2 linked regions of the Homo sapiens genome follow. The protein of the gene in region 1 purifies or fractionates together with the protein of each later gene. This does not show direct contact. Each region holds a gene or a part of one and is shown on either strand. Other genes may lie near its edges.

What was found. The genes of interacting proteins can lie anywhere in the genome.
Region 2: the proteins of TRIM55 (region 1) and SRSF7 purify together in Homo sapiens (affinity purification with mass spectrometry; 2 studies listed by BioGRID, with this or other methods). This does not show direct contact.

Annotation. Positions count from the first base shown.
Region 1 is NC_000008.11:66,144,129-66,151,161, reverse strand, and holds part of TRIM55 (tripartite motif-containing protein 55), read right to left. Parts: intron 1,518-7,033; coding exon 1,284-1,517; intron 946-1,283; coding exon 923-945; intron 821-922; coding exon 696-820; intron 1-695. UniProt on the Homo sapiens protein: E3 ubiquitin ligase that plays an important role in regulating cardiac development and contractility, muscle growth, metabolism, and fiber-type differentiation.
Region 2 is NC_000002.12:38,743,094-38,748,389, forward strand, and holds the end of SRSF7 (serine/arginine-rich splicing factor 7), read right to left. Parts: intron 5,065-5,296; coding exon 4,954-5,064; intron 3,655-4,953; coding exon 3,601-3,654; intron 3,087-3,600; coding exon 3,051-3,086; intron 2,095-3,050; coding exon 2,040-2,094; 3' UTR 506-2,039; downstream 1-505.

The DNA of each region.
Region 1 (7,033 bases):
GATGTGCTGCAATATCTAACCCACATGCCTCCTATGTATTGTTTTTATCTCATCTTTAACCTTGCTCCTGCTGACACTTTACATTATTTTGGCTAACACTGTGCATAGGATTGAAGTTGAGATATCATCATTATCAATTATGAAGCATTTGCTTATCAAGAGTCAAATACCCAACCTGACATTAAAATAGGCACCAGGCCGGGCATGGTGGCTCACTTCTGTAATCCCAGCACTTTGGGAGGCCAAGGCAGGTGGATCACCTGAGGTCAGAAGTTCGAGACCAGCCTGGCCAACATGGCGAAACCCTACCTCTCTAATAATTCAAAAATTAGCCGGGTGTGGTGGCAGGTGCCTGTAATCCCAGCTACTCAGGAGGCTGAGGCGGGAGAATCGCTTGAACCCAGGAGGTGGAGGTTCCAGTGAGCCAAGATCGTGCCATTGCACTCTAGGCTGGGCAACAGAGTGAGAGTCCATCAAAAAAAAAAAAAGGCACCATATGTGCAAAGCTAAATAAACACTGTCAACAAACGATGTGATCCTGTAATGAAATAGAGCTTCACATTGGATATGATCCTTGTAAAGTTGTCGACATTGATTCTGGAGGTGATTCTGAATCCCCGCTTTCCTCCCACCCAACTCTTCGGCAGCTTTCACACACCTGCAACTTCGGCCAAATGGTCAAAAGAATAACAAACCTCTGTAAAAGTCAATTTCACGTATTATCTTTTCTTCTCTATTGAGGTTGACTGTGAAGTGGTTCATGTTCTCATAGCCATGTTCTATTTTCTCCATCTGAAATGCCTTTGATGCTTCCGAGATTCTGCAACAAAGACAAGTTGCCACTTTCTGTCACTGTTGAAAATTGGATAGCCTTGGGTAAAGGTGAAAATATGCATTTTTACATAAAATAAAAAGTTCTTACTTTTTTAGCAGGGTTTTGGCATTCTGTGAAAGCAAACAAAAGATAGTCTTACTTAAATTATTTCCACAAAAGACAGTGGTAAGACAATTATTTCCTTTGTTGACTCTGAGAATCTCATAGCTTAGTTTCTAAATGTCATAAATAACTGCTGTCTTATAACAGAACCCTATTAGATTTAAGCAGTATCATAGACATGCTATTTAAGTTGTTTAAATAGATTAATATATAAGCACATGGGGTTTATATTTTAGTTGGTAAAATAAATAAAAACTGAAATGTACATAAAATAATAAAAATGTGATAACTAATTTTCCAACACCCACCTTTTGGGTTGTTACTTTGGTGCCAAAAAGAGACTTACCTGCAGAAACACTGCCATTTCTGGCTCATCCATAAACTGAATTCCTGACTCAACCAACTTTGAGACGTTCTCCAAATGATCAGAATACTTTTTGATCAGAGCACGGACATGTTCCAGTTTCTCCTCTTGGGTTCGGGTAATGACTTGGGTCATTTCATTCTTCCTCTCCTCCAAAATGCCATACAGGTAATCAAACTTCTCACAAAGCTCTTGTTTCTGTTTTCTGCAACATTCCTATTAGTTGGGTTAGCTAATGTTAGAAAGTATTTGAAACAAAGTCGATTTGGAGAAATCACCTAGTTATCCTGGGAAAGAAGAACATTTACTTATGTAGGATATTTTTTTCTTTTCCCTGAAGATGTCTATTTAGGTATGGATACCCACTATGTTGGTGCTTTGGAAATTCCATTTTTAACAAATTTGATATTTAGACTATCTAAAACTCAATTAAATTGGCTACATGAATCAATGGTTTTTCAATCTTCTGTTCTTTATAAATGGAGAATTTCATAGAAATAAAGAATGATTTTCTTTTATATTATATTTGGGTTACATAGGTTATAGGTTATATTTTGCTTTGGAGTGTGTGTGCATGTGTGTGCATGCAAGGAAAATACTATGATACTTCCTGGTTTGTACCTTAAAGTCTCTGCTCCACCTATACCAATATTGTCCTAGTTTCAGTCCTCCTATATAGAATTTGTAGCTTCCCAAAGGCCTCTGCAGCTAGGATTCCCTCCTCCCAGTCAACTTACACACTGCAACCAAGTTAATTTTCTCAGAGTACAGTTCTAATCATGTTTTTTTGTTCTTTCCTTTCTTTCTTCTTTGAGACAGAGTCTAGCTCTGTTGCCCACGCTAGAGTACAGTGGTGTGATCTCGGCTCATTGCAACCTCCGCCTCCCAGGTTCAGGCAATTCTCCTGCCTCAGCATCCCAAGTAGCTAGAATTACAGGCACCTGCCACCACACCCAGCTAATTTTTGAATTTTTAGTAGAGATGGGGTTTCACCACATTGGCCAGGCCGGTCTTGAACTCCTGACCTACAGTGATCCGCCCACCTCAGCCTCCCAAAGTGCTGGGATTACAGGCGTGAGCCACCGTGCCCGGCCTTAATCATGTTTTTTTCTATGATGACTCCCTATTACACAAAGAATAACACTTAAACTTCCTAACTAGCTTTCAAGACCCCTCCATGATCTGGTTCCAATTTCTCTCATAACATTCTACTATCCTCCATTGTATACCCTGAATTCCAGCAAAAATAAACCACTCACTTTCTTTGTTCATGCTTTCCCTTCTGTCTACAGTGTTCTTCCCCAAGTCACCACTGCAAACTCTATGCAATTTCAAAGACATTGTCAGACTACCACTTCTTCCATAAAGTGTCCCTTGATGTTTATGGCTGAATGCAACTTTTAACTTTCTGAAATCTCATAATAGTTACCATTGATAGCATATATCTGTATCTACCAGATCCTCTATTTATCCAATACTGCCTAAGAATGGGTAATACTGTATCTGGTCTATGCTCTTGGAGAGAAAGGCTGTGTTGGAAGTCTGGCTTGCACATTTGTGTTGTGTGGCTGAAGTATCTCCAGTACCATCCAGATCCCTTTAGTCTGGGCCCATCTTTAAATCATAATTAATTATCCAGTTCATCTAGTCATTGGCCTTTTGGTTTTTCAATCCCTGGTAAGCTTGGTGTGCATGTATGCCAATCTCCTTGGACTTGACCATCTCTGGGTCCAGGACCTTTATAGCTGAGAGCAGGTTGTGAGCCATAGTGATCTAACCTAGCTCTCCCGCACAGTGAGAGCTTCTTGGGAATCCAGCAAATTTATTTCTGACATCTCTGACCATTCTATACCCTTTATTACATATTCTTTCATTTTGGTAAACATTGAAGTCTTTTATGTCATGTATTGCTTTCTTCCTTTATGTGAATTTCTTAAATATCCAAAGTATATTTTTTTTGAGGGTAGAATCTGGGTCTGCCTAGGACACAGAGCACCTTGGATAGTAGCTGTTCACTAAATATCTGTTGAATAGATTTTGTGGTTTTTTTTTTTTTTTTTTTTTTTGAGATGGAGTCATGCTCTGTCACCCACGCTGGAGTGCAATGGCGCGATCTCGGCTCACTGCAAGCTCCACCTCCCAGGTTCAAGTGATTCTCCTGCCTCAGGCTCCTGAGTAGCTGGGATTACAGGCACATGCCACCTTGCCCGGCTAATTTTTGTATTTTTAGTAAAGAAGGAGTTTCACCATATTGGTCAGGCTGATCTCAAACTCCTGACCTCATGATCCACCCGCCTCGGCCTCCCAAAGTGCTGGGATTACAGGCGTGAGCCACCAATCCTGGCGGAATAGATTTTTTTTTTAATGTGTTTCATTTCCTCTCAATTTCTCTACTATTCTCAGTATGGAGTCAGGGAGAATGACCTAAACCAAATTGTTGATTATGAAGATACTCTGCAAATGTGCAAGAAATACATCCCTTACTCCATTGCCTTCCTTGGAACAGTCAATTCTCATCACAGTTCCCAACCAAATTATAATGCATGGAGATCCAGTGGTGCCAACTATTTTAATAGTAAATGCCTTACCACTGTCATCCACCCATTCATTCATGGATTTAACAAACAATGCATGTCATTTGTGTCAAGACTCTGGGGATCCAAAAAAGAATTAACATAGTTCCTATTCTCAAGGAGCTCACAGTTCACTGAGAAAGACTATAGACCAATAATGTAATTCAATATGGTAGGCTGAATAATGTAAATATTTTAGAGATTTATACCAGATGCTTTAGAAGCATTTATGGAATCTTTGTCCAACCCTTTGTGTAGGTGGAGGAACTTTGAGGGGAGCCAGAAATGTTGACTCAGGAAGAGTTTCTCAGAGGAATTAGTACTTGAACTTGACCTTAAGGAGGAATAGGAGTAAAGGAGGTTGAGGAGGGGATGAAAATGCTTGAAGTCCTAGCAGTTGTGAAAGTAATGGAACAAGGGCCCATGCAGCATGTCAAGATGTGGAAATTGCCTGGCTTGACAAATTTCCACTCATTTCCAGCCCTTTAGCTTGAGAGTCGGACTGTTCAACCAGGCCTAGAAACTGAAACCTATTAGTAGCTTTCCAATCAAACTCTCTTTCACTGTATTATCTTTTGTTCCAACCTTCAGGCAACCAGGTGCCCACTGTACACATGAAATAAGCCTCTCTGATATTTAGAAGCTCTACTGTGATCATATAATGGTTTCCAGCTTGTTTCTCCCAAATGAGTTGTGCACTTGAAACATTTATAATATGAGTATTATATTAAGATGTAATACAGGTAGAAAGTCTTTGATTCACAAAAATTTTCTCCTATGTGATTTAATATGTGAGAACATTCAAGTTTATGGCAGCCAAGTCATTTACAATGAGACAGATGTGAAGCATGTGTAATCTAGTGTACTCTCTCAAGTCAAATAAAGATTAAATCACTTATTTTGACCATATAATTTTTTTTGGCAGTTTAAATGGAATAACTAATTTCATTCCTATATTACTTGCAATTCCAAGCATTATTTTATTTCTATTCTGTTTTTTTAAATAACTTATATTGAATGTTAGTAAAACTACTATCATTTGTTTATACTTCATAGTGCAGGAAATGCTACCCCATATGCGGTCTATGCTTTATTAAAATTATTATATCATTAAATACTTTGTAAAGTGCTTATAATATTACCTGGCATATATTGGTACTGGATCAGTGTCTATTAAATTTAGGTACAAATTCCTTAACCTGAATTATTCAGTTGTGGAATTTTGAAGCTGCATGGAATATTAGAAGTAACCTGCTCCAAATCAATCATGTCACTCATGTGGAAACTGAAACCCAGCAGAGCTGTCACTTTCTCAAGGCCATCCGACCATTTATTATTGGTGCCTGGCCTACAGTCAAGGTCTTTGAACTCCTGGGTCATTGCTACTCTCACCACACCCAGCTGGGCCCATATTTTAAGTAACTTTAAAAAATTATATGAAGTGCTTGTAAATGGAATATATGCCTTTTAACAAATGTACTGGCCAGGTGCAGTGGCTCACACCTGTAATCCTAGCACTTTGGGAGGCCAAGGCTGGAGGTGGAGGCTGCAGTGTGCCAAGATCGCGCCATTGCCCTCCAGCCTGGGTGACAGAGTGAGACTCCACCTCCAAAAGAGAAAAAAAAAACAAAACCCAAATTCACTATGCTTAAGGTAGATTTTTTAAAGGCAAGGCATCTTAAATTGTTTCAGAATTATATTCCTAGTTCTTTCAACAAAATTCACCAACCACTGACTTTGTACCTGGCATTGTATGATCTAATAACCTGCCATAATTTTCCATTGTTTTGGAGAATAATGAACAAAAAAAAGTATCATAAATGATAAATATAAAATCATTATATTTTCTAATTCCTAATGGAAAAAACTTTTTTCTCTTGTTTAATTAGCTTTTAATATAATTCTATGCAAAAAATGGTAAGAGTTAGATAAATCTGTTTCTGAAACGGCAAAAATACATGCCTCTTCTTTGGAATTACGAAATTGGAACTTACAGACTTTTAGAAATTAACTCAAAATGTTCAGGTTAACCTAATGTCATATTCAAATGTGAAATACTCCATGAAATGAAGTCTCCTATTTTTTCACACTCTTTGAGGTAGAACCCACACACAAGAGACTAACTTAGATGTCCCCTAATCTTTCTTGGCTTCAAGACCATCAAAGTGCTGTGAAAGTCAGGGAACAATAAACACCTCAGGTTATCAATTTGCCCTCTAAGCTGATGAGGGAACAGATATGTGCCATGAAAAAAAAATGTTCTCAGAGGCCACCTAGCTACTGACAGTGATGACTCTGAATTTCAGTACCTACTGTGCCTTTGTTAATGTGAATCTGCAACACTTTCAGCAGTGACTTTCTAGCAGCCTGAAAAATGGAATAGGAAAAAATGTGGACTTTTGCATTGTGAAAACGTCTGCAGACAGAACACTTTAAAGGACTGTTGTTACCTACAAAAGCATGATAGCAACCATATTTGTCTCTTCTCCACAAAAACTTCCTCATCTCAAAGACTGCTCCTTGCTTTTAGCATACTTTTTCATTTACTTGAGTAAAAAGGTATGTATCTTTAAGACCAATTCGGAGCCATACACCTCCCCTCTTCTCTGGACAGTAATTCAATCAAGATATACACTTTTTGAGCTTTCGAGTTTATCTTTTCAAATAGTCTCCATTTTCTTCCTTTTGATGTCTGTGCTTCCTACATCCTCTGTGTGTGCACCTGTGTGAGTGTGCTTAGCAAGTGAAGTATACCTCCACCATAAATGAAGTAGGTATTGGTCTCCGGGTATACTCTGATGCAAAGCCTCTGGCTGCTGCACAGCCTTCCTCCTGGGTCTGCTAGGACAGTTATATTTCTTGGCTTCTTGGGAGAACCAAATTAAAGTTGTCTATAATATTTTAATGAAAATAAAATTCATCCCATTTCTAGGGAGAATGCAGTGTGGATGCAATATACCAAAAAGGGATGATTTTATAAAGTGAAGATCATCCCTCCCATATTGAAATGGTAAGATGATGATGGGTGGGATATTTGTTTCTAACCAATGCCAACATTTCTGGATGTAAAGAAAAAAAATCAAATGGTCATTTGGTTGTTTCCTTAGAAGTGAGTAGGTAACATTTAACATTGACCTAAAGCCATTGTTGAACTGTTGC
Region 2 (5,296 bases), on another chromosome or scaffold:
AGCTCACTGCAACCTCTATTCAATCAGGTTCAAGTGATTCTCCCGCCTCAGACTCCCAAGTAGCTGGGGGATTACAGGCGCGAGCCACCGCACCAAGCAAAAAAATTTTAAAAATTAAAAATAAAAACTGACTGATTACTCATCAGTGCTAGGCTAGTTTAGAAGGAATGAGTCTGGAGCAGCACTTCCAATCAGTGACAATCAATTTGGCAATCCCAATCACAGAAAACAAGTGGGGGGATGCACCAAAGCTTATTTTGAAATGCATCTATCAGTAACGGGTGCCAAGTTGCACATGACCTAAGAGGTATTGGCCCAAACAGCCCTTTTCCCCACAAGGCTGGAATTTGTTTAAAACCATTTTTGCCCCTACCCCTCCTCCACACCTTTTTATCCTTTCTATACTCATTTCTAGGACGCTACTAGCTGCCCATCCTAAAGCTACAGGATTAATGCCTCCTACTTTTGGCTGAGAGCTCCCACTTCCAAAAATTAAGTATCAGGATTATTTGTTCAATCTCTGCAGATTTATTGTTGAGTAAACTTATCTTTAAATAATACAGAACAATTAAAGCTAACCAAGTGCAACAGATAAATAAGCCTGCCAGTTATACACATAACTTTATACCAACCATAATTCAGCCAGTCAAAATTCCAAAAACAATCCAAATAACTTCCAACATACTAGCGGTCAAACTACCGAATAAACTTGATGCAGACCAGTATTCCCAAGTTGCAATAGTATCCAATGACTTTGCTGAAATGCATAAAATGGACAAGCCTAGGTATCTGCGCAACCAGCAGGTTTTTTTTTTTTTGTACCAAGGCTAGAGAATGCCTGGTAAAAGCTTGACCAGAAAACTCTCAAAAGTAACTGTTACTGCCCTACTATTCTTAAGATACTTAAAATTTGAATAAAGAACCTACTGGCTATGTAACATTCTAAGGTCTACCAGATGCTACCAAAAAATATTAGCTACATGGAGTGTTGCTAAATATAGCTGAGATTTACAAAACCACTTTAGTCTCATTGACATTTCTGATTGACATCTTTAATTACTTTGCACCAGCCTGGCAAAATAGAAGAATGTTGTGGTTGGGAACTGCAAAACCTAGCTTGAAGATTAACAACAGGTCTTTGCTCAGAATAAGACAATCCATTTGAATAGATGAAGAGTATCTGGGCTGGAAAATTTTGCAAAGCTGGTTTACATGAAGGTGTTTTGTCCCAATTTCAGACAATTCCTCAAACATGCATTTTTTGGTATAAAACTGGTTAACTAATGTAGAAAGCAAAGAAACAAGACCATTGAGAGTAGAACTCCCCATATCTTGGGGAGTCCTAATTAACACTATGCCACCTAGTAGCCTGAAAGCTGCAATTAGTATAAAGATCATCCAGAAATGTTTCTATTTCTCATACATTTAATCAGTTTCGTTTAGTTCCTGTCATGCTCATTTAGACACATCAGTGGTCCTACTTGCTTCACCACTGATCATACAATACCTACTAACACCAACTTCAAACGGATTAGCTAACTTAAGGATCTGTCATGATGCATTCAGGCTGTATCATAAGGGACTCAGGTCATCTTACCCAGAGCTACAAGGGTAAGATGGAATTTTCAAAGTCCCTTAAGATCCTGGCCAAGTTTTATGCATAGAATAGTGATGTTCAAGACTTAACCAACACCTTTCAATTCTGAATGTAGGTATGTATGAATAAGGTTAACAATTATAATGTCTGACTCTCAAATATATCAAATTAAGAAGTGTTAATATTGAACACAAATCAAAAATCTAGTTAGAAACATTTTATTTAAATGTGCCAAATAAAAACCCACATTTTCAGACCATATGATGTTAATACATTCAACAAAATTTATATTATCTTACTGCTGTGAATTTACATAGTAATCCAGATCCATTTTGATTAGATGGTTGAATTATCTTTCCTAGGTTACACTTTACAGACATCACAAATCCCTTATAATAATGTAAACAAAATAACTTTTCCCTAAAGGGTGAACTTGAGAGCTTCAGTCCATTCTTTCAGGACTTGCACTTCTGCGAGGACTTCCTGATGGGGAACGACTAAAAAGAAAAACATTAGGTTTGGATCCAATTAGTGTCAATTGAAACTCTCATGTACATGTACTAACTTTCAATAACTTCAAAGGTGGCCTAAGGTACTAATTTCCTATAGCAAAGACCTAAAAATGACATGAAACTTACATATATTCATCTTTTGTCCCTGGCTTAAGATTAGGCTACCCTGGCCAGGCACGGTGGCTCACGCCTGTAACCCCAGCACTTTGGGAGAGGCCGAGGCAGGTGATCACCTAAGATCAGGAGTTTAAGACCAACCTCGCCAACATGGTGAAACTCCGTCTCTACTAGAAATACAAAAAATTAGCCAGGCTTGGCGGTGGGTGCCTGTAATCCCAACTGCTCAAGAGGCTGAGACAGGATAATTGCTTGAACCCGGGAATCGGAGGCTGCAGTGAGCCAAGATTGAGCCACTGCACTCCAAGCCTGGGGACAGAGCGAAAACTCCATCCCAGAAAAAAAAAAAAATTAGGCTATCCTCCTTGTCAAAATTGCAAGGTCAACCTGCAGTTAAATATGACAACTATTTGAAGTCTTCTGGTCATTAAGAAGCACTAGATAAATATGACAACTATTTGAAGTTTTCTGGTCATAAAGAAGCACTAGGCAGGTAACTATTTCCAAGACTTTTCTCCACACTTTGTATCTATTGTACATGTGGGGAAAAGGCATCTATCTTACCAAAATTTCTACCAAGTACTCACAGGACCAATCACATCTTAATAATCACCCTAACATTTTATGACTAAGTATTTCCAGCAAAAGTATAAACTAATGTTACTGAATCAAAAAAAAAAAGTATTTCAGAAACTTAGCATAGTATTTTAATCTATATAGCACCAATTCTCCAAAGAGCTCAAAGACTGCAAAGCAGTAAGCAAACAAATTCTGCAGAGGCCACACTTGACAGGCAAGATTTGGCAACAAAACATTTAGCTTACCTTCTTTTTGGAGATGGAGATCTGGACTTTGATCGGCTGTCAAAACATGAGAAATTCTATTAAAGAAAGAGTACTAACCAATCCCTTTCTTGTAGTCACCAATACCGTAAAACCCCCAAATGTCCTAAGCTTAAAATGTCAGACTGCACTTAAACTGAAAAACATCCTACCAGTTGTTGCTAACAAAAGCCAATCTTTCAACAACTGTTTTTCAAAAAATGACTCAATTACTACATCATGATTAATCTTTTACATTCTGCTTTAAGCACATCGATTTCAGGATGCTTCTCCATGCACCTATCAGTTCTAACAAGGGCCTCTTTAATATAATCCCCCAAGTCATAAGCTTCTTTCTCACTATAGTTTTACATTCCCTTGTTCAGGGAAAGTCAGCCAGTAATAAATAGGACATACACAAATAAGGTACTGTGTTCCCACTAAAACCTAAGTTTAGAGTTAACACTTAAAATTTCAACAATTAAAAACACTTTGAACTCTTTGGATATTGGTGCCATATAACTAGAAAAGCATAATCAAATTTTTACCCTACCTGCTTCTTGGTCGTGAAATAGACCTGGATCTTGATCTTGACCTCGACGGGGATCTTAATAAAAAAAGTGAAAAACACAATTATATCAATCAGTCCAAAGGAATTTCCTTAACTACTCAACACTGTATTAGGTTGGTCAGGCATAAAGAAGCTAAAACTAAACAAGATGCAACACTTGCCTTATTCTGTCTAACACACTGTCAAACAAAGTGTTACCAGACATAAGGAACCCCCATTTCAATTACTTGTTTCTATCACTCAATTGGTTAGTTTCTGTACAGGTATAACATTCTCAAACACTGTGTAATATCCAAGGGAAATACATGGTTTTCATTTGATGAGACTGGTATGAAGGAAGCAAAACTAACCTCACTTAAGGCACAGATCCCTCAGCTGGGCACTGTGGTACACAATGGCAGTCCCAGCTACTCAGGAGGCTAAGGCAGGATGAAAATAACCAGACCCCTGAACTGAGACTAATTCAGGTGATAAGGCCAGACGAAAAGAAAGCCGCCCCCCATTTGTAAGGCTTTATTCCTGGATCAAGTTATGTTTGAGAGCCATCAATCTGTCAGACAAACCAAATCAGACTGACATATCTATCTTTTAAATTTATCTAAAGAGATGGTTCATAGCTTTCTCAAATAGACCACAAGATTCAGAATTCCTGCATTTAAAGGTTTTGTGCTATTAAACAGCAATTTAACTCCCAGTAGCATTCCGTACCACGGTTTTATCGTTGGTACAGATAACAATATTGTTAATTACATGTTGCAATACTTATTTTACAATTTTTTCCATTCTATCTCCTTTTAAGGCCTTCTACAAATAGTAAAGCTCTGGTTCTTTAGTTTTTTCAGGTCTGAAACGGTCTAAAAAAAAAAATCCACATTCATTTCTGTGTACACACTACTGCCCTAGTCAACTTTCCAGTGTCTCAAATCAACCCCATCATTCCAAAAATGAGAAATGTTTCTACTTGCTTCTGATCTCTTTTCCTGGTGCTAATAGGCCTTTTTGTCGGGAAAATCAATTACCATCTTTCAGAGCTAGTATCATCCAATCTGAAGCCAGAAAAGTTTATAGCAACATGCCTACCCAGAGTGTTGAGTAGAACTGTATTGCTTGGGACCCTTGTCTACCACACGGCCTAACAAGCCTTAAAATCTCTAGTAGCCCTTTTCTTCATCTGTAAAACTAGGTTAATATTTATGTTACAAGTTACACATAAATTCCAAACTTTTACATCTCAAATATTCCCTGAAGCAATCCATTTGAATTATGTCCTTAAGACACTCTACTGATAAGATGTGAACAATCCAAACACAAGTAAGGAAAAAAAGTGTTACATACTGGAAATACCTCGATCCTTTTATAGAACCAGACCTAGATCTTCTGAGTGAAGCTGATCTTGATCTACGAAGAGAGATAGATCTTGATCGTCGAGGAGATGCTGACCTTGACCTAAAATAAAGAACTTTAAGTCCATCTCCACAGTTTTTTTTTTTTTTGGCCTGTTAAGACTTCAACTGGGGAACGGTGCAGTGGCTCATGCCCATAATCCCAGCACTGCGGGAGGATCGTTTGAGCCCAGGAGCTTGAGACCAGCCTGGGAAACAGTGCAAGACCATTTCTACAAAAATAAAAATTAGCTGGGTATGGTGGCAGTGCCTACAGTCCCAGCTACTCGGGAGGC